2 separate regions of the Homo sapiens genome follow, and region 1 is linked to region 2. The links come from fine-mapping of genetic effects on gene expression. A gene starts in region 2. The other region holds a variant in brackets. All regions are shown on one strand. Distances are between the middles of the regions.

What was found. PIP is the estimated chance that this variant, and not a neighbour inherited with it, causes the effect. A credible set is the group of variants that fine-mapping cannot tell apart.
Region 1: its variant is the best candidate, but not a certain one, in a credible set for the expression of LINC02369 in testis (GTEx, PIP 0.75).

What each region holds. Positions count from the first base shown.
Region 1 is chr12:128,084,608-128,089,824 of GRCh38, forward strand. It overlaps LINC02369 (long intergenic non-protein coding RNA 2369), which reads right to left. Exons shown (of 5, transcript NR_104647.1): 4 at 3,122-3,249; 5 at 2,375-2,691. Among named protein-coding and RNA genes, the nearest start is that of LINC02369, 31 kb to the right of the region's middle. The variant C/T (reference allele first, on the strand shown) is at 2,690.
Region 2 is chr12:128,115,043-128,120,259 of GRCh38, forward strand. LINC02369 (long intergenic non-protein coding RNA 2369) reads right to left here and starts at 3,099. Exons shown (of 5, transcript NR_104647.1): 1 at 3,083-3,099; 2 at 2,872-2,966. LINC02368 (long intergenic non-protein coding RNA 2368) reads left to right here and starts at 3,175. Exons shown (of 3, transcript NR_104648.1): 1 at 3,175-3,735.

The DNA.
Region 1 (5,217 bases), 30 kb before region 2:
TATATTATATATAATATATAATACATAATATATAATATATATTATATAATATATTATTACATAATATATTTTATATAATATATTGTTATATAATATATAATATATAATATGTTGTTATATAATATATAATATATATTGTTATATAATATATGATATATATTGTTATATAATATATATGATATATATTGTCATATAATATATAATATATGATATATATTGTCATATAATATATAATATATGATATATATTGTTATATAATATATAATATATGATATATATTGTTATATAATATATAATATATAATATTATATGTAGTATAATATATATAATATTTTATATAATATATAACGATATATTATATAATATACTATATATTATATAATATATAGTTATATATTATATAAATATATATAAATAATTATATATATAAATATATATAAATATATATAAATATATAAATATATAAATATATATAAATATATACATATATAAATATATATAAATATATATAAATATATACATATATAAATATATATAAATATATATAAACATATACATATATATAAATATGTATAAATATATATAAATATATATAAATATATATAAATATATATAAATATATATAAATATATAAATATATATAAATATATATAAATATATATAAATATATAAATATATATAAATATATATAAATATATAAATATATAAATATATATAAATATATAAATATATATAAATATATATAAATATATAAATATATAAATATATAAATATATTTAAATATATAAATATATAAAAATATATATATAAATACATATAAATACATATATAAATATATATGTAAATATATATAAATACATATATAAATATATATATGAATATATAAATACATATATAAATATATATATGAATATATATAAATACATATATAAATATATATATGAATATATATAAATACATATATAAATATATATAAATACATATATATATAAATATATATAAATACATATATAAATATATATATATATATTTTTTTTTTTTTTTGAGACAGAGTTTTGCACTCTTGCCCAGGCTGGAGTGCAGTGGCGTGATCTCGGCTCACTGCAAGCTCCGCCTCCCGGGTTCACACCATTCTCCTGCCTCAGCCTCCCCAGTAGCTGGGACTACAGGTGCCCGCGACCACGCCCAGCTAGTTTTTTGTATTTTTAGTAGAGACGGGGTTTCACCGTGTTAGCCAGGATGGTCTCGATCTCCTGACCTCATGATCCACCCTCCTCGGCCTCCCAAAGTGCCGGGATTACAGGCGTGAGACACCACGCCTGGCCTAACCTTCTATATTAACCCTAAAGCAACTACGTTTAAAAAATAACAGGTACCTAAATTGGAACACCAATTTCTCTAATCACAGATCAGGTACATAACTTTATGGGAAACATTTCCTTCAAAGCATGACAAGGAAGGCTCGTCTGATCCTGTATTTTATTTGTGAATTTATTTCTTGAGTTAACATGAATCTATGTCAAAGTAAAACTTATATCTGAAAGAATCCAAATCATGAGCAGCTTTCTTTTTATAGTTTTTCCCTTAAGAATAAAAAAGTTGGGCAAAATGCATTTCCAACGACAATCTGCAAACAAGATGACAAGAGTCTGGGTGAATACATTTTTAAACGACTGCCTGGATCAACTGGAATTGTCATTGGTTTCTTTATTTACTGTTATTTCACCATCATCTTTAATAATCTTGTTCAATAATATTTTATAAATAAATATGTAAATGAATCAAGAAGTAAATAGAAAATGTGTCTAGGAGATACTTCATTGGGAAACAAAGCTGATTAAAAGCATTAAGTGTTCATGAATCCATTTTTGTAAGATACCTGAGTGCACCTGTGTGTAGATGATTTGATCAGAAAGAATTGTTTTGCCATGTTAACAAACAAACTCAAAGTTTTAGAGTCAAAAGTGGAAATAAATATCCCTTTTTTACATAGCCAGAGAGACGCAATTCATCACGTTCATATTAATTGTCTTTATCCAAAGCCAGGGCTGGGGAGAATCAGGGGCAGGCAGGAGATTGCATTTTTGTGACAAGCAGGAAGTTACTTCTGGCAGCCATGCACCTAGGTCAGTGCCGTCAGATACAAGGACATAAGCTGACAGCTGTGAATGAATGTTCAGATCCCAAAAAGATGACTGCAACCCCTCCAAGACGCATTCCTAGAGTATTAAAAAAAGAGGCTCACTTGGCCTTTAAAAAGGTTGGCACTCATCTCCAATAGGTAGGAAAATGATTTACAAATACTAGTTTTCTAAAAGAAATCCTGCAAGGGGCAGCGGCGGGGCGGGGGGTGGGGAAATGGGTAGGCATTCTGTTTCCCTCTGGCCACCAAAGAAAGTTTATTTTATTATTATTTCATTGGCATTTATCCTCACAGTGTTTATGTTCTTCCAGGCGTCGTGTCAGTGGAAAGCGATTCATTGATGATGAAGACATTCTGGGAGAATTTAGCGTAGGCCAGTTGGAATTAGCAGACCTCAGTCAACCAGGATCCCCTGTTGGGCAAATTCTGAGCAGGTCCAGCAGGTTGGGGCTCACCCGGTGAGGAAGACTTCCTGGGTGAGGAAGACTCCTCGACGACTCCTTCCAACACTCCCTCTGAAAAGCCTTCCTGACGGGAGCCTGGCTG[C/T]CCTAGGAATAAACAAGGGAAGGGAAGGCATTTGAACCCTTTTCCTGGGGTCCTTTAGAACCAGTTCCCCTCAGTCCCGCTCATCATATTCTCCCAATTCTTTTCACCATTCTATTTTACTGTCACCTCCAACAGAATAAATCCTTTTCCATTTTTTTGAGGCAGGAATTGTGACTCTTAATAAATATTTTTTTCTTGTGTTCTGACGATTCACTATTCCTTCCCCAAATTTTAAAAATCAAAGAAACTCCTTTCTCTCTGGTGCAACATTCCTGCCCTGAGTCATAACACAGCATATGGCCAGCTCCTGGGATGAAAAAGGGTCCAGGTGAGATGGGATGAAGGGGTGCAGATGAGAAACCAAACACCTTGCATAGCACACCAGGCTCACTCACGGCCTGGCAACAGCTCAGAGTGGAGGCAGGGCCTTACCAGTGGTGGGCAAATCCCCACTCAGGCTCCTTGGTTCCTGTCTCCTTTCTTCCCTCCCAGAATCATGTAAAATGCTGACTTCTAGGAGAAAGAAAAAGCAAGCCTCATCTTCCATCCTAAAGCAGCTCCTTAAAAACAAAGAAAACACGAGTTATTTCAGCCACCTCCAGTATTTATCATCAAGTGATTTTGTATAATTCTCTCCACTTCGCAAAATCTTCATGCTCTGGAAAGGGCTGCTGGGGATAGAATCTCAGGTCAAGGTGGGGGCGGGGGCACTGAGCAAATGACCCTGACGCCTTCTTTGGATCTGCTGTTCTATGATTTTAGTAAATTGGAGTGAGGGTCCTCCGCCTCCCACTCACAACTCCTGCTCAGTTTCTTGGTTGCTTATTGGTTTTAGTTAAAATTCTTCCCCAGTCCATCTGATGTGGTTAGGCTTTGTGTCCCCACCCAAATCTCATCTTGAATTGTAATCCCCAGGTTTTGTGGGAGAGACCTGGTGGGAGATGATATGATCATGGGAGCGGTTTCCCCCATGGTGTTCTTGTGATAGTGAGTGAGTTCTCACAAGATCTGATGGTTTTATACGTGTTTGACAGTTCCTCCTTCATGTATTTACTCTCTCTCTCTCTCTCTCCTGCTGCCATGTAAGATGTGCCTGCTTCCTCTTCTTCCATGATTGTAAGTTTCCTGTGGCCTCCCCAGCCATGCAGAACTGTAAGTCCATTAAACCTCCTTTGTTTATAAATTACCCAATCTTGGATAGTATCTTTATAGCAGTGGAAGAACAGACTAATACACCATCCAATGGAGCAATGTTACACTCAACCAAACATAAATTAAGTATTTACAGCTCAATTGGAGAGAGAACTTAGAACAAGAAATACTTAATTTCATTAATGCTCAGTCCTCTGCCCTGGGGAGTGGGATGAGACATCTACATTTGGCTGCAGTTTCTGGGGCCTCTCCTGCTGGTAGCATCTCTCTCTGTATTGTGTTATTCTAATATTTAAAGATTTGTATTTTTCATAGAGCATGTGCCCTAAACCTGTGCCTACAACATTAGCAGCTGTGCATCTTCCTGAGAAGGATAACTCCTCTGCTGTGTTGATTCAGTTTTATTCAGTTATTTTGACCATCTCAGTTTCTCCCTCTGTGTTGTTTGTAGAATCCAAGCCCAACATCCACTGTGACTCTAGTGATGCTTCCTCTTCATCCAAGATTCTCTGTCCATTGACCCCACCAGGAATGAAGTGTCCCTGAGGTCACTGTGAGATACATCAGAGTCACTTGTGTTACTTTCTTTCCCATTCCTGCAGATGCTGCATTTGCTTCTAAAGTGGAAACCCAGCCAGGGCAATGTTGAAGGCAGGCAGCTGCCAATGGTGGGATGCCAGGCATCTGAGCATAAACCTGAGCCCAGAAGGATGGGGATGGCCTGCCAGGACAATCAACTGCAGAAGACAGGGCTTCCTGGTCAGTCAAACAGTGGCAACTCTTCCTCCTTTTCCCAAAGCTCTTGGAAAGCCATAAACTCCCTGGGGAAGTAGTTTTGAATGTTCATTAAACTGGGAGGGGTTTACATTAAAAAACAATTTAAGGAATCTCGTCTAAAACCCAAAAGTCCTCTGAAGAGTCTTCTGCGGGCTCATCAAAAACCACACAATTGGCCAGGCACAGGCCTCTCATCCCAGCATTCTGGGAGGTCAAGGCAGGTGGATAGTTTGAGGCCAGGAGTTCAAGACCAGCCTGGAGAACAAGGTGAAATCCAGTCTCTACAACAAAATACAAAAATTAGCTGAGTGTGGTGGCTCACAAGTAGTCCCAGCTACTCAGGAGGCTGAAGTGGGAGGATCGTTTGAGCCAGGAGTTCAAGGCTGCAGTGAGCTGTGATTGCACCACTGCACTTTAGCCTGGGCAACAGACCAAGAACCTGTGGAAAAAAAGAAAAAAAGAAGCTACACAATCAGCATAATATAAATGTTGGAGTCACGTGGAATGGCTGTGCTCCTCAGGCCTTTGCCTTGGGTGCCAGAAGCTGAGGGGATGGAGGTTCCGTGTGAATGTGGGCATGGTGGAGGGAGGGCTGAATC
Region 2 (5,217 bases):
CCATGTCGCCCAGGTTGGTCTCAAACTCCTAAGCTCAAGTGATCCACCTGCCTCGGCCTCCCAAAGTGCTGGGATTACAGGCGTGAGCCACCACACCCAGCCCATTTCTTCATATTTAAAAAAAGGAAAAGAAATTATCTTCCTACAAATGCTCCCAACCCATTCCCAAGTCAAGCTCCATGCTTCGGAAACCTTGCTGACTCATGCAAGCTCCATGCTTGGAAACCTTACTGACTTATCCAAGTTCCAACTTTTGGCCATTTGAGTCTTTTTTGAAAAATGTCTATTCAGATATTTTTCCTCCCTTAGACCATCACTCTCCTTACTCTCCGTGTGGCTACCATTAGCATCCTCTCCTAATTTACAGCTTAGCAGCTGCTGAGAACTAAAAAATCAGATAACCAAGATGGTTGGTGTCGAGTATAAATAGATCCCGAAGTCTTTGCATGAAAATATTGTGAAACACATTTTCATTTTTGGAGTCATTTTTTATTAGTAACATCCTGATAGTTGAATCTGGTAGATAAGTGACTTCCAGTTACCAGTTCAGACTGGCTCAAGGTCAAAGATAAGGGCTGGGGGGTTGGATCTGGCTTCTGGGTGCCATAGATCCAGGTGCTGAAACTATGTCATCTCTTGCTTGCCTGGGTGGGCTGCAGCAAGTTCCAGGCTGCAGCCTTCCAGCTCCGTGGCATTTAGAGAGAGCTGCCCCTTGTCAGCAGGTACAGCAAGAACCCCAGGAAGATCTCACCTATAAGCAGAAGACAAAACAAACAGGAAAAAAAAAAACCATCCTGGGAAGTGTAAACAGCTCTGGAGCCAGGAAAGGTGGGTGAGTGAACATCCTTTAGGCCCCAACACACAGACTGGGAGGGAGGGAGTCTGGATCCTCGAAGCAAATTGAGCAGCTTCTACCAGAATAGTAGAGGGGTTGCTGATTAAACAAAAAACATATATTCATAACTTCATTTAATTTTTTAATGCAGTTTCTTTTTCTTTTTCAAAAACTTTAATTTCTGGGATACATGTGCAGAACGTGCAGGTTTGTTACATAGGTATACATGTGTCATGGTGGTTTGCTGCACCTAGCAACCCGTCATCTAAGTTTTAAGCCCCGCGTACGTTAGGTATTTGTCCTAATGCTCTCTCGCCCCTTCCTCCCCACCCCTCCCTCCTGACAAGGCCTGGTGTGAACCAACCCAAATGCCCATCAATGGTAGACTGAATAAAGAAAATGTGACATATATACACCACGGAATACTATGCACCCGTAAAAAAGAATGAGTTCATGTCCTTTGCAGGGACATGGAAGAAGCTGGAAGCCATCATTCTCAGCAAACTACCGCGGGAGCAGAAAACCAAACACCACATGTTCTCACTCAGAAGTGGGAGTTGAACAATGAGAACACATGGACACAGGGAGGGGAACAACATTCTTTTCCTTTATCTTATATTTGTATGTTGAGAAGCTAAGAATGATTCTAATTTAGGCAGTTCAAGCAGTGTTTTTGAATCAATTCTACTCTACTTTATGTTGGATGTCTCCACAATGGAAGATATTAGAGGAATATTGGAGAATAGGGTGATGAGGCAATAGGGGTTGCTATGAGCCATTGAAGACAGGCTAGGGCATGACCCTTTTTGTTCCTGAAATCACTCTGGGTGCTATAGCAACTCATCCCCTGATGGAGACATTATCTGCACAATCTCACTGCATCTGCCTCGTCTCATCTCCGAAGACCACAGCGGCTGAGAGCAGAAAGATCACCAGCAGGTCACCCCTCATTCCACGCTGAAGTCCCCTCCAGCACAACCACACCGCCTGGTCATCCAGCCCATGACCTCTCAGAGGATGCACAAAGGGAGGGCCCAATAACTTTTATTTACTTATTTTTATTTATTATTATTATTATTTGAGACAGAGTTTTATTCTTGTTGCCCAGGCTGGAGTGCAATGACATGATTTCAGCTCTGCAAACTTCGCATCCTGGCTTCAAATTATCTCCTGCCTCAGCCTCCCGAGTAGCTGGGATTACAGGTGCCCACCACCACACCTGGCTAATGTTTTGTATTTTTTTTTAGTAGAGACAGGGTTTTACCATGTTGGCCAGTCTGGTCTCAAACTCCTGACCTCAGATGATCCACCTGCCTCAGCCTCCCAAAGTGCTGGGATTGCAGGCGTGAGGCACTGCACTCAGCCCCCAATAACTTTTTAAGGCTCTAAGAAAATGTCTTTTTTAAAATTAATTAATTAATTTATTTATTTATTTTTGAGATGGAGTCTTGCTCTGTCACCCAGGCTGGAGTGCAGTAGTGAGAACTCGGCTCACTGCAAGCTCTGCCTCCCGGGTTCACGCCATTCTCCTGCCTCAGCTTCTCGAGTAACTGGGACTACAGGAGCCCGCCACCATGCCTGGCTACTTTTTTTTGTATTTTTAATAGAGACGGGGTTTCACCACATTAGCCACGATGGTCTCGATCCCCTGACCTCGTGATCCGCCCACCTCGGCCTCCCAAAGTGCTGGGATTACAGGCGTGAGCCACTGCGCCCGGCCGAAAACTTCTTTTTTTTAATGAAGGAATTACAAAACGGGCTTTGAAGTAATGTAGAATACACTTATATATTTACAAGTTGACATGGGGACACACTCCCACAGAGTGCACAGTGACGTGAGTGTAGTAACTTAATGTGGTAAGATTACATGACCCCTGCACGTGATGAAGTCTGGCCATGAGCCCTGTGGGAGGAAATTTTGATAAATGTCTTCCTTCAATCATTTCACTGTCTGCGTCCTGGTTCTGAACTTCAAAAGTTGCATGTGAAGTCTCTTGCGAATATGAGACTCGGGCCACATAGCCGATCGCACTCACCCATCATCCAAGATGTCTGCCTGGGCTCTGATCTGCTCTGTTCTTGCTTTCCTCCAGGGACGGGTGGCTCAGTACCTCACAGAAGCAAGTCCTGCCTTTGGAAAGGAAGTTCTTTACTATTTTGATATGAAATATGCCTGCTTAGTTCTCAGAGCAAGAGTGTCAAGAGTACACAGCCCAAGAGGCCCGGTGGAAGCTGCAGCCTTCTTACCTTCTTATGTTGGAGATGGGAAGCCCCAGAATGTCCCTTCCACAGCGTTCTGTGGTCGGCAAGTCACCAAGCCAGCCTGGATTCCAGGAAGCAGAAAGGGAGTTCCCTTCCGCCTCCCTAATGCCATGGAATGGGGAAGGGTACAACTCTAGGATCAGACCCAAAGGGAACTGTTGTGAATCTTGATTTTGTGACTTCTTGGCTATTGGATTTGGGCCAATTATTTGTCATCTCTGTACCTTAATTTACTCATCTATGAAAGAAGGACTAAAAATACTTATCATAGGAGAAGACAATATGTAAGCCACTTGGCAATGTGCCTGGGACCTAGTGAGCGATTCTTCTCACTTATTATTGTTTTCGTCATCATCGACATCATCGTCACCATTACTTTTCATTGTCTTTGGAAATTTGGACAGAGACCACAGGCAGATGCGGTGCCGTATTCCCACAGGGCTGGAGCAGCGGGTGTGTTTTTCTGTGATAGCAGCGCTTCCCGGAACCAGCAGGGTACACGTTATTTGACCTGAAGGGCGAGGGAGTTCAGAGCCTACAGTGATGAGAGAAAGCCCTGAGTGAACGTTTCCTTTCAGCTTCGTGAGAGGAAGAGTCTAAATAGGGGAGCCATCCCCAAAACCTGACCACGAGCAAGGGTGCAAAATAGGGTGCAGTCTCTTCACATATCTAGACAGGAGTATGAACCTCCTTGGGAGCGTGCAGGCTGGCAATACCCGTGTGTGCATGTACGCGTGTGATTCCTGTGTGTGCGAGCTTCTGTTTATGTGTGTGAGTGTGTGCATGTGTTAGTATGTGTAAATGTGTGGTTTATGTGTGGTGGAGTGAGCACATGAGCATGTAAAAGTGTGTGTGCATGAACAGAAGTATGTATGTGTACTGCATATGTATGTGTGAGTCTGTGTGGCATATGTGTATGTGGAGATGTGTTTGTAGTGTGTATCCGTGTGTGTACCTGCAAGTATGTTTGTGTTTATGTGTGAGTGGTACGTAGTATCTATACACAGGTGTGTACATTGTGTGAGTCGTGTGCATGTGTGTGATGACTCTGTGTTTGCGAGTGTGTGTGCTGCATGTACCAGAATGTGTGTATCTGTGTATGTGAGGGTTTATGGGTGAGTGCAATGTGTCTGTATGTGGGCATGTATATCATGTGAGTTATGAATATGGGTGCAATGTATGTGTGTATCTTTATGAGTGTGTTGTGCTTGTATCTATACATGTGTGTGCACGTGTGCATGCATACATTTGTGTGTGTGCATACATTTATGGGTGTGATGTGTGTGTCTGTCTGTGGGTGTGTATGTTGTGTGAGTTGTGTGTATATGTGTGATGAATGCATGTGTATGTGCATGCATGCATCTGTGTCTACTCGTACTTTATGGGTAAGAGGTGTGTGTGTGTGTGTACATTGTGTGAGTCGTGTGTACATTGTGTGAGTCGTGTGTACATGTGTGATGAATGCATGTGTATGTTTGTGCATGTGTGGTGCATGCATCTGTACATGTGTGAATCTGTGTGTATGCATATATTTATGGGTAAGATGTGTGTCTCTGTATGTGGGTGTGTACATTGTGTGAGTCGTGTGTACATGTGTGATGAATGCATGCGTATGTGAGTGTGTGGTGCACATATCTGTGCATATGTACATCTGTGTGTACACATATATTTATGGGTGAGAGGTGTGTGTCTTCATGTGGGTGTGTATGTCATGTGAGTCGTGTGTACATGTGTGATGAATACATATGTATGTGAGTGTATGTATAGTGCATGTATCTGTGCATGTGTGAATCTGTGTGTATGCATATATTTATGGGTGAGACGTGTGTCTCTGTATGTGGGTGTGTACATTGTGTGAGTCGTGTGTACATTGTGTGAGTCGTGTGTACATGTGTGATGAATGCATGTGTATGTGAGTGTGTGGTGCACATATCTGTGCATATGTACATCTGTGTGTACACATATGTTTATGGGTGAGAGGTGTGTGTCTTCATGTGGGTGTGTATGTCATGTGAGTCATGTGTACATGTGTGATGAATGCATGTGTATGTGAGTGTATGTATAGTGCATGTGTCTGTACATGTGTGAATCTGTGTGTACACATATATTCATGGGTGAGA